Linked DNA regions of Homo sapiens: region 1 is linked to region 2. The links come from fine-mapping of genetic effects on gene expression. A gene starts in region 2. The other region holds a variant in brackets. All regions are shown on one strand. Distances are from middle to middle. Region 1 overlaps USP2-AS1 (USP2 antisense RNA 1). Region 2 holds the start of USP2 (ubiquitin specific peptidase 2).

Region 1 (4,386 bases), 44 kb after region 2:
TCTGTGGGAAAACCAAAGTGTAAGAGGTGCAGGATGCAGGCCGGGAGCGCCCACGCCTCCACATTTCCTTTTCAGCTGGAGCCCACCTCCTCCGGAGCCTCCAGTGAGAAGTTTTGGAATATTCCAGTCTTTCTGAAAGGAAGCTGGTTGGGTGTTTTTCAGTGTTGGAGCAGCCCTTCGGAAGCGAGGCAGGTGCTGGACCCACCCTGTCCGTCCCTGGTCCCCAGCCCCATTTCGCCCCCTCATCTATTCCAGAGCACCCAGCCCTTCAGGGGGCTGCAGGCGCTTTTTGCTCTGGGCATTACGTCTTCTTCAGCCCCTGGGCTGGCACCTTCTGGTCCAGACAGCTGGAAGGTTCTTCTGGCTTTCCTGAGTACAGTCTGCTTGTTTGGTCTTCAGACCAGGAAGGGAGTGTTGCCTTTTAGCAGGCACTGTGCTGGGCACATTACATTCATGGCGACCTTTAACCCATGGCCGCCTGCTGGGTTCATCCCATCTCAATCCTCACCTCCTGTCTTGGCTGGTAAGTGGGAGAGCTGGAGAACTGACCTGGGCTATGGACCCCAGCTCTCAAGGGTGAGCCATTCCTCTTGCTCATCCCTGCCTAGTGGGAGAAGAGAGAGAGGAACTCTGGGAAAGAGGAGGAGACAGCACAAAAAGGACTGAGTCGAGGCCAACTCCTGATCACCTGGGGCACTCCTGATAACCCACCGATTGGATGTCACCAGAAGCCCTAGGCTCATTTTTAGAGACAGTGCTGATGACTTTCTCTCACTCACAGGTGTAGTGAATTTTTTTGAACTAACGTTTATTTGATTGATTTGTATCCTGCCAGCCTCTTTATGAATTCTGATCACGACATTCTGTGGGCCTCCCCAATGTCTGCCTGCCTGTTCTCCTATTTCTTCATGGAAGTCAGCCCTGGCACCTTCCCTGCAGTTTCTGATACTGCAGTGGCACTGTTGGAAGCCACTGTTGGAAGCTTGCAAGTGGGAGGAGATTCGCTTGGTTTCCCAGCATTTAGGGTGATGGAACACTCTAACTGGAATGAGCCTTGCAGATGGTTAAGTCCAAAGGAGCTATTCACTTTGGTAAACTGCAGAGGTTTCTAGGGCATTTTATGAAAAATGCAGCTGGCCTTGCCCACCTAGGACCTCCTTAATCTAGTACTAGAGCCAGCTGAGTCTGCACTTTTCTCACGCTCCCCAGGATCTGGGGACTCTAACACATGATCTGGTAAGACTGTCCCTCTTCATAGGTGAGCTAACCTGGCTTCTTGTTTGTAGGATACTTTTTAAGGCCATGAATGTCCTGGCCCCTGGCTGCTGACTTCCCTCCTCCCTCCAACTCCATCCCAGCCATCTTCCCATTCATCTACCTGATGCATTCCAGACACACTGGCTCTGGCTTCTGTCTGCCTCTTCATGGCAGCGCACTCCTTCCTGCTTAACAGCTTTCTGATTCTGAGTCCAGGGATCTTAACTGCAGAAGGCATCTGGGCTCTGCTGGCTGAGGCCCTGGATGCTCCGTTTCCCACTCTTTGGCCCTGTCTCTGAGTGTTGCTGGGTGGAAGGCCTAGCAGTGCTATTTTGATAAGGTTATGAGGACCTGGCCTAATTTCTGGGTCCCCAAGCACCTTGCTTTTAGGCAGGGGAGGGGAGTATAGACTGTAGAAGGTGTGGCAATTCTGTGTCTGCCAAGCAAGATCTCTGATTGGATGGAATTAATGGCTCTGATTAGACATCTGAGGTCAGGGGATAGAGCACAAGGTGGTGGAGGGAGGAGATTTTAAAACTCCATTTACTGTGGATAGGATCGGAGTGCTGAAACCAGCAAGGCTTTAGAGGAATCCAGCTAAGGCAAGACTTCCTGCCAGAAGACTGCGGCTGCCCTGTTGGTCTCTTAGATCTCTCTTTTCCCACCATCTCCTGTTTTCCCACCCAGAAACATATGGGGATAAAAACTCTTCTAAAAACACACAGTCCTTTAGCATGACCTAGGGACTGCCAGCCATTCCCTCATTTCATCAGATTGTCTTTCTAGAATCACAGAGGTGACTACAGTGGTCCCATCTTTTAAATTTTATTTTATTTTATTTTTGAGCCAGGGTCTCACTCTGTTGCCTAGGCTAGAGTGCAGTGGTGCAATCACCACTCACTGAAGCTTTGACCTCCTGGGCTCAAGTGATCCTCCTACCTCAGCCTCCTGAGTAGCTGGGACAATAGGCACTTGACACTATGCCCAGCTAATTAATTTTTTTTTTTTTTTTTTGTAGAGATGGGATCTCACCATGTTGCCCAGGCTGATCTTGAACTCCTGGGCTCAAGTAATCCTCCCGCCTGG[C/G]CTCTCAAAATGCTGGGATTACAGGTGGGAGCCACTGCACCTGGCTTGCCCCACTATTTTATAGCTGGGACTTGAGGCCCGAGAAAGGTAATGATTTGTCAAGGTCAGACAAATATTTTGAAGCATGGTCTGGACTATTAGATCTTAAGTCTCCTGACTCCATGTTCCCACTGTGCTCTCCAGTGCTCCCAGGGCGGACCCTCAGATCTCTGCTAGACTCATTTCCCTGGTTCACGGTGAAATAAGTAAAACGAGGACAGTCCGGGGTACTCTGAACATAGCTGTCAGGTTATCACCTTGTTTTGATTTTATGTTCTTCACCCTGTTGATGAGGGAGAGATTCCCATCCCCTAAAGTTAGGGGGATCACATGACCTCAACACTGGACGAATGAGAGCAATAGCAGTTTATTAGTCACATATGCTCATACCTGGGAGGATAACACTGCACGCCATGAACTGCTTCATGGGAGTTGCACTCAGAAACAGGTATTACCAGGAGCTGTGGGAGGCAGGCTTTGTAATGTCAAAACGGTGGAATGCCCCCGTTTCCTGTAAGAGAATGTGATTGGCTGTTTGCATAATTCTGTGGGCTGGCAGGGTGCTGAAGCCCAGTACTCAGGGTTAAGCAGAAATTGTGCCTGGCCCCCACAATAAGGAGGGTGGTTTGGCTGGGGGACCTCATCAGCAAAGTAGGGAGGGGATCTTGTAATTAGGCCATTTGAGGTCTCCCTGATATCAAGGCAGCCATAATACTGAGCTCTAATCTTTGACTAATTGAGACTATACACCTGCCTTTCCTATACTTTCATTCTAAGGTTATACCTTTCCATTTTTCTGAAGAGATGGTGGTATTGATATGTGTGTATGTGTGGTTTTTAATGTCCTACTTTATATATAAAAAAAAGAAAATTGGTAACTTCCTGTTAACCCTCACACTTCTTTGGAAATGTGACTAAGTCTATGAAATTAAAATATCTTGGAACTGCTGCTCTACACTCCGCTACCTCTCCTAACCTCTAGTCGAGGTCAACTTCCTGAGCAAGGTCAGCTCCCTGAAGAACTGCATATTTGGTTGGAGAATGTGACAAATACAAACTAAACATTATTTCTTGGAATGCAGGGCAGAAGTTGAGAGAAGGCACCAATGGAGACACTTTAATCTTTGATAGTTATTTTAAAAACTTTATTCATGGATGGTTTAATTGACCAAATAATTAAGACATTATTGGTACCAATAATGTTCCAAGGCACGGGGCTAGACGCTAGGTATACAAAGATTAGTAGAACACCATCTCAAAGGCTTGTTCCAATGGGGGAAACAGAAATGATACATAGATAATTAGAAAAAAGAGGGTAGACACAGAGGTAGAGACGTGTAAAGGGTACTGTGGGAGTCCAGAGGAGGGACAGGTGATGACCCAATCTGTCAGAGAGGGCTTCTTGGAGGCCAGGCATGAACTGAGCTTTTAAAGATAAATGGGAGTTGCCCAGGTATGGTAGACTGTCACATCAATGGCCTCCAGTGAGTCATGCCCCCCCCCGCCCGGTGTCCATGCTTTTGTGTAATCCCTTCCGTGCTGATTCTGGGCTTGGCCACGTGCCTTGCTTTGGCCAATGGGCCATCAGCAAATGTGATGAAAGCAGAAGCTTGTGAAATGTTTGTACGTTGGAGCTTGCTTTTTTGGAGTTCAGTTGCCACTTGAGGGAGTCTGAACTATCTCAGTTTACATCAATCACCATTTGGGATCTGCCAGCCCCCAGTTGACCTGCCATGGGACCACACAGGCCTGTGACCTGCCATGGGACCACACAGGCATGTGACCTGTCATGGGACCACAAAAGCATGTGTAATTCCAAGTGATGCCATACAGAAGAGAAATGAGCCACCCAGATAAGGCTACCGTGGTGATTCTAAAATGTGGACACAAATTCTTTGACATTCCTTCATCAAGAGGTGACATCTAGGCCGGGCGCGGTGGCTCATGCCTGTAATCTGAGTACTTTAGGAGGCTGAGGTGGGCGGATCATGAGGTCAGGAGATC
Region 2 (4,386 bases):
TGGTCTATCTCAGTTGTGAGGATTAAATAAAATAATATTTGTAAATTTCATGGCCCATAGAGTTCAATAAACATTGATGATTATATTGAATACTTCCACTTCTTATTATAATTAGTGGTATTATTAATAATAGCGCCTTACCAGGTGAACCTTCCTAGGGAGAAAAGGAGGGTTACTCCTGGGGAAGTGTTCCTTTCTCTTTTTTTTTTTTTTTTTTTGAGACGGAGTCTCCGTCGCCCAGGCTGCAGTGCAGTGGCGCGATCTTGGCTCACTGCAAGCTCCGCATCCTGGGTTCACGCCATTCTCCTGCCTCAGCCTCCCGAGTAGCTGGGACTACAGGCTCCCGCCAGCACGCCCGGCTAATTTTTTTGTAATTTTAGTAGAGATGGGGTTTCACCGTGTTAGCCAGGATGGTCTCGATTTCCTGACCTTGTGATCCGCCCGCCTTGGCCTCCCAAAGTGCTGGGATTACTGCACTTTGAGCCACTGCTCCCGGCCGGAAGTGTGCCTTTCTAATGCCAGAGAACAGTCCCTTGGTTTTCTGAACTGACCATGTCCCATAACTGGGAAGGGCAAACAAGGCTTGCCATCTTCCTAGACGTCCAGTCCACCAAGCAGAGAAAGGCCAAGCCCATCTGGGCTCCTTCCCCCTTTGCCTAGAAAAATACGGCAAGTGCAGCTTCCCCCAGGCCACCAGGAGAATGCTTGGCCCCTCTGGGGTGGTTCCACTCTACCTGTGGGAGGGCTCAGGATTCCAGGGCCACAGAGCCGGGCTGGGCAGGGTCACAAGAGGAAGGAACGGGGTTCTTAGCCTCTCTGGCCTTGGTGCACTTGTCTGCTCCCAGGACGTTTCTCGATGGCTCTCCCCGAGGACTGGGAGTACCCAGCCTGGTGCCTCCACCCTGTCTTAGCACAGGCTACTGACTCAGCCCAGGTCCTAATGATGCACTTCAGAGGACGCCCTCATTCCAGTCCTCATTCTGACTCCAGTCTGACATGCATCTACAGCATCAAAGGAGGGGGCCTGCCTCGACCTTAGCCCAATCAGCTCTCCTTTCCTCTGCTTTACGGGGGTCCATCTGGGGGATGTTCTCATGCCCATTCCAGGGGAGGTGAGCAGCCCCTACCACTACCTCCAGCTCAGTCCCATTCTAAAGGCAGCCAGGTCAGGAGGTAGGATGTTCACTCTTCAGGGAAGGGCTAGAATGGGTTGGCTAGGGCTTCCCTTGACTGTTGAGAAGTTGCTCTCTCCGGAGCACCGCGTGCCTGCTTCTGGTTTGGGACTGGTGAGAATTTCAAAGCTGCCTCTTTCTGGTTTGGGATTGGTGGAAAATCTCCCCTTCCGCTTAATTGTTGCCCAACCCCCGCCCCTAACCCCCTTTAGCAAACTGACCGGGGAGCTTTAAGAGCAGCGAGTGAGCTGCACGCACACGTGGGGAGGGGGTTTGTCAGTGTCGCTCAGGCCACATACCACCGATATACACGGGGCACAGCGAGGAGGACCCGCCAAAGCAGCATTTCCTTAGAATACACTGATCAGCACACAGTTGGCTCTTCCTGGCACCCTGGGCTGTCAGCAGGCAGCCCTCACACAACTGGCAGACACAGCTGGAGCGTCCCTGCACAGCCGGCTCTCTCCCTATATTTCTAGTGTCCACTCTGCCCAGAATGTCGTGGACACCTTACTTTCTGAGCTCCAAACCGGCACTGATCCCCGAATCCCCCCTCCCGGATCCCCGACAGGTGGCACGTACCTGCCTCTTCTTGGAGTATGGACGAGTCGAACCGGGCACAAGCATGGAGCTGCGGGTGAGTCCCGGCTGGCGCTGGCGCGGCGCAGTGAGCACCAGCTGACGAAGAGGGCTCCCCGGCCTCGGCTCCTGCCTGACTCTCTCCCACCTCCGCCGGGGGCCCAGAAGGGACCTCCCCGGGAAATCGGCGCCACCCAGCGGGCAGCCGCCTCATCGCGCCTGGGCCGGCAGAGCCACACCCCGCGTCTCGCGTCACTGAGTCGCGTCACGGCTATTGGCTTGTTCCTACTGTGGCGTCATTAGAGCCCGGCCTCCGGCTGGGGCCACCCAGGCAACCGATATACACAGAGAACCACGTGGAGGAAAAGCACGCGAGTTTGGAGCGGGTGGAGCAGGAACAGAGGTGGACTGGAATGTCACACGACGGGGCAGCTGGAAGGTATTGGGAAAGAAGAGGCGTCATGGGAGAAGGCTCGGAACTTGAGCCCTGGGGCGTATCAACTTTCAGTTTTTAGGGAAGGCTAAACGTCCCCCACTCCCCTTCTCACTGGGCTGGGGGAGGTCCTGTTCCTCAGCCTCTTCTCTTTTTCTCTGCTGTCAAAGACACTCTCCGCTCATTTTACTTTCATGGGACCAGTGATTAGTGATGAATGCCTGAGTGGGTAAACGGAGGCACTGAGTCAATGAAAGAATTCTCTTTGGTCTTTTCAAGAAAAAGCCGAGACAAAACTTGAATTTTTGCTGCTCCCATTCCTTTTATGTAACCTTCTCCCGACTCCCCCGATGTTGATGAGGAAAATCGCACAACCAGGTAGCTGGGTACCAAGGCGAATCCAGGTTTTCAACTTCAGCTGCTCCATCAACCCTTGCAGCTGCCGTTAACTCCTCCCATCTTCACCATAGATCTCTCTCTCCATCGCTACTCTCCTCAAGTCCTTCCTTCTCTTCTATTTCCCAGAGAAATCAGACGCAATCAAGAGGGGAATTCTTAAATTTCTACCTACAAACATGTCTGAATCCATTCTTATCAGGAGCAGTGAAAGAGGCACCCCTGTTCTTGTCCAAGGCACGATTCCCTTCTTGATTTCAACTCTTGTTTTGTTTTTGTTTTTGTTTTTTGTTTTTTTGAGACGGAGTGTCGTCGCTCTTGTTGCCAAGGCTGGAGTGCAATGGCGCGATCTCAGCTCACTGCAACCTCCAGGTTCAAGCAATTCTGCCTCAGCCTCCCAAGTAGCTGGGATTACAGGCGTGCGCCACCACGCCAGGCCGATTTTTTTTTTATAGAGTCTTGCTCTGTTGTCCAGGCTGGAGTGCAATGGCATAATCTCGGCTCACTGCAACCTCCTCCTCCCGGGTTCAAGTGATTCTTGTGCCTCAGCCTCCCCCGAGTAGCTGGGATTACAGGAGCCCACCACCACGCCTGGCTAATTTTTGAATTTTTAGTAGAGACAGGGTTTCACCGTGTTGGTCAGGCTGGTCTTGAACTCCTGACCTCAGGTGATCCACCAGCCTCAGACCCCCAAAGTGCTGGGATTACAGGTGTGAGCCACTGCACCCGGCCCCAGCTAATTTTTTGTATTTAGTAGAGATGGGGTTTCACCATGTTATATTTCCTTAGGGCCCTCATTCCATCACTTCATTTTACAGATGGATATTGGACATGCCAGTCACTCTTCTAGAAACTGGGGATATAGCAGGGAACAAAACAGGCACAATCCCTGCCCTCAGGGAGCTTACATTCTAGTAGAAGCAGGACTAAATAAGTAGAATATGTAATATGTTAGATGATGCTAAGAGCTATGGGGCACATCAAGCAAGGAGGAGGTGCGTTCGGAGAAGGTAACATTCAAGTGACCTGAGGGAGGCTAGGCGTGAACTACACATAAATGTGGGGAAAGAATGTTCTAGGCAGAGAGAAGAGTAAAAGTAAAGGTCCTGAGGTGGGAGCGACCTGCCACTTTCGAGGAAGAACAAAGTCAATGTGGCTGGAGTGAAGAGAGAGAAAGATAGGGAAAGAGTGGGAGACGCGATCAGAGAGGTCAGAGAAGGACCCAGCCTGTAGGTCCCCAAGGCCATTCTGAGGACTTTGGCTTTTATGAAGCTACTGGAAGGTTTTGAAACAGGGTTGTCCAATCTTTTGGCTTCCCTGGGTTATGGTAGAAGAAGAATTATTGTTTTGGGCCACACATAAAATACACTAACACTAAAGATAGCTGATGAGCTTTAAAAAAAACTCATAATGTTTTAAGAAAGTTTACGAATTTGTGTGGGGCCACATTCAAAGCCATCCTGGGCCACATGTGGCCTGCATACTGTGGGTTGGACAAGTTTGTTTTGAGCAGAGGAGGGACACGGATCTGATTTTTGTTTTAACAAAATACCTTTTGCTACTGTGTAGAGAACAGCTCTGAAGAGAGCAGAAGCGGGAGACCATTTAGGAGGTCATTGTGAGCGTCTGGTTAGTGTGGTAGCAGGACAGGTGATGCAAAGTGGTGGATTTTGGAAGTATTTTGAATGTGGACTAACAGGATTTTCTGATGAATTAGGCAGTGTGGGGAGGAGGGAGGAATTTTTCACCTGAACTTTAACTGAGGAGGGGAAGGCTATGGTAGGATAATCGCTTGAACCTGGGAGG

Evidence for each region. PIP is the estimated chance that this variant, and not a neighbour inherited with it, causes the effect.
Region 1: its variant is the best candidate, but not a certain one, in a credible set for the expression of USP2 in fibroblasts (GTEx, PIP 0.78).

The regions. Positions count from the first base shown.
Region 1 is chr11:119,423,520-119,427,905 of GRCh38, forward strand. The region is part of intron 2 of USP2-AS1 (USP2 antisense RNA 1); the gene reads left to right. It also overlaps a transcript of THY1 not described here. Among named protein-coding and RNA genes, the nearest start is that of THY1, 2.5 kb to the left of the region's middle. The variant C/G (reference allele first, on the strand shown) is at 2,344.
Region 2 is chr11:119,379,719-119,384,104 of GRCh38, forward strand. It overlaps USP2 (ubiquitin specific peptidase 2), which reads right to left and starts at 1,972. Exons shown (of 13, transcript NM_004205.5): 1 at 1,755-1,972. It overlaps USP2-AS1 (USP2 antisense RNA 1), which reads left to right and starts at 2,060. Exons shown (of 4, transcript NR_034160.1): 1 at 2,060-2,190. RefSeq lists an enhancer at 1,050-2,039.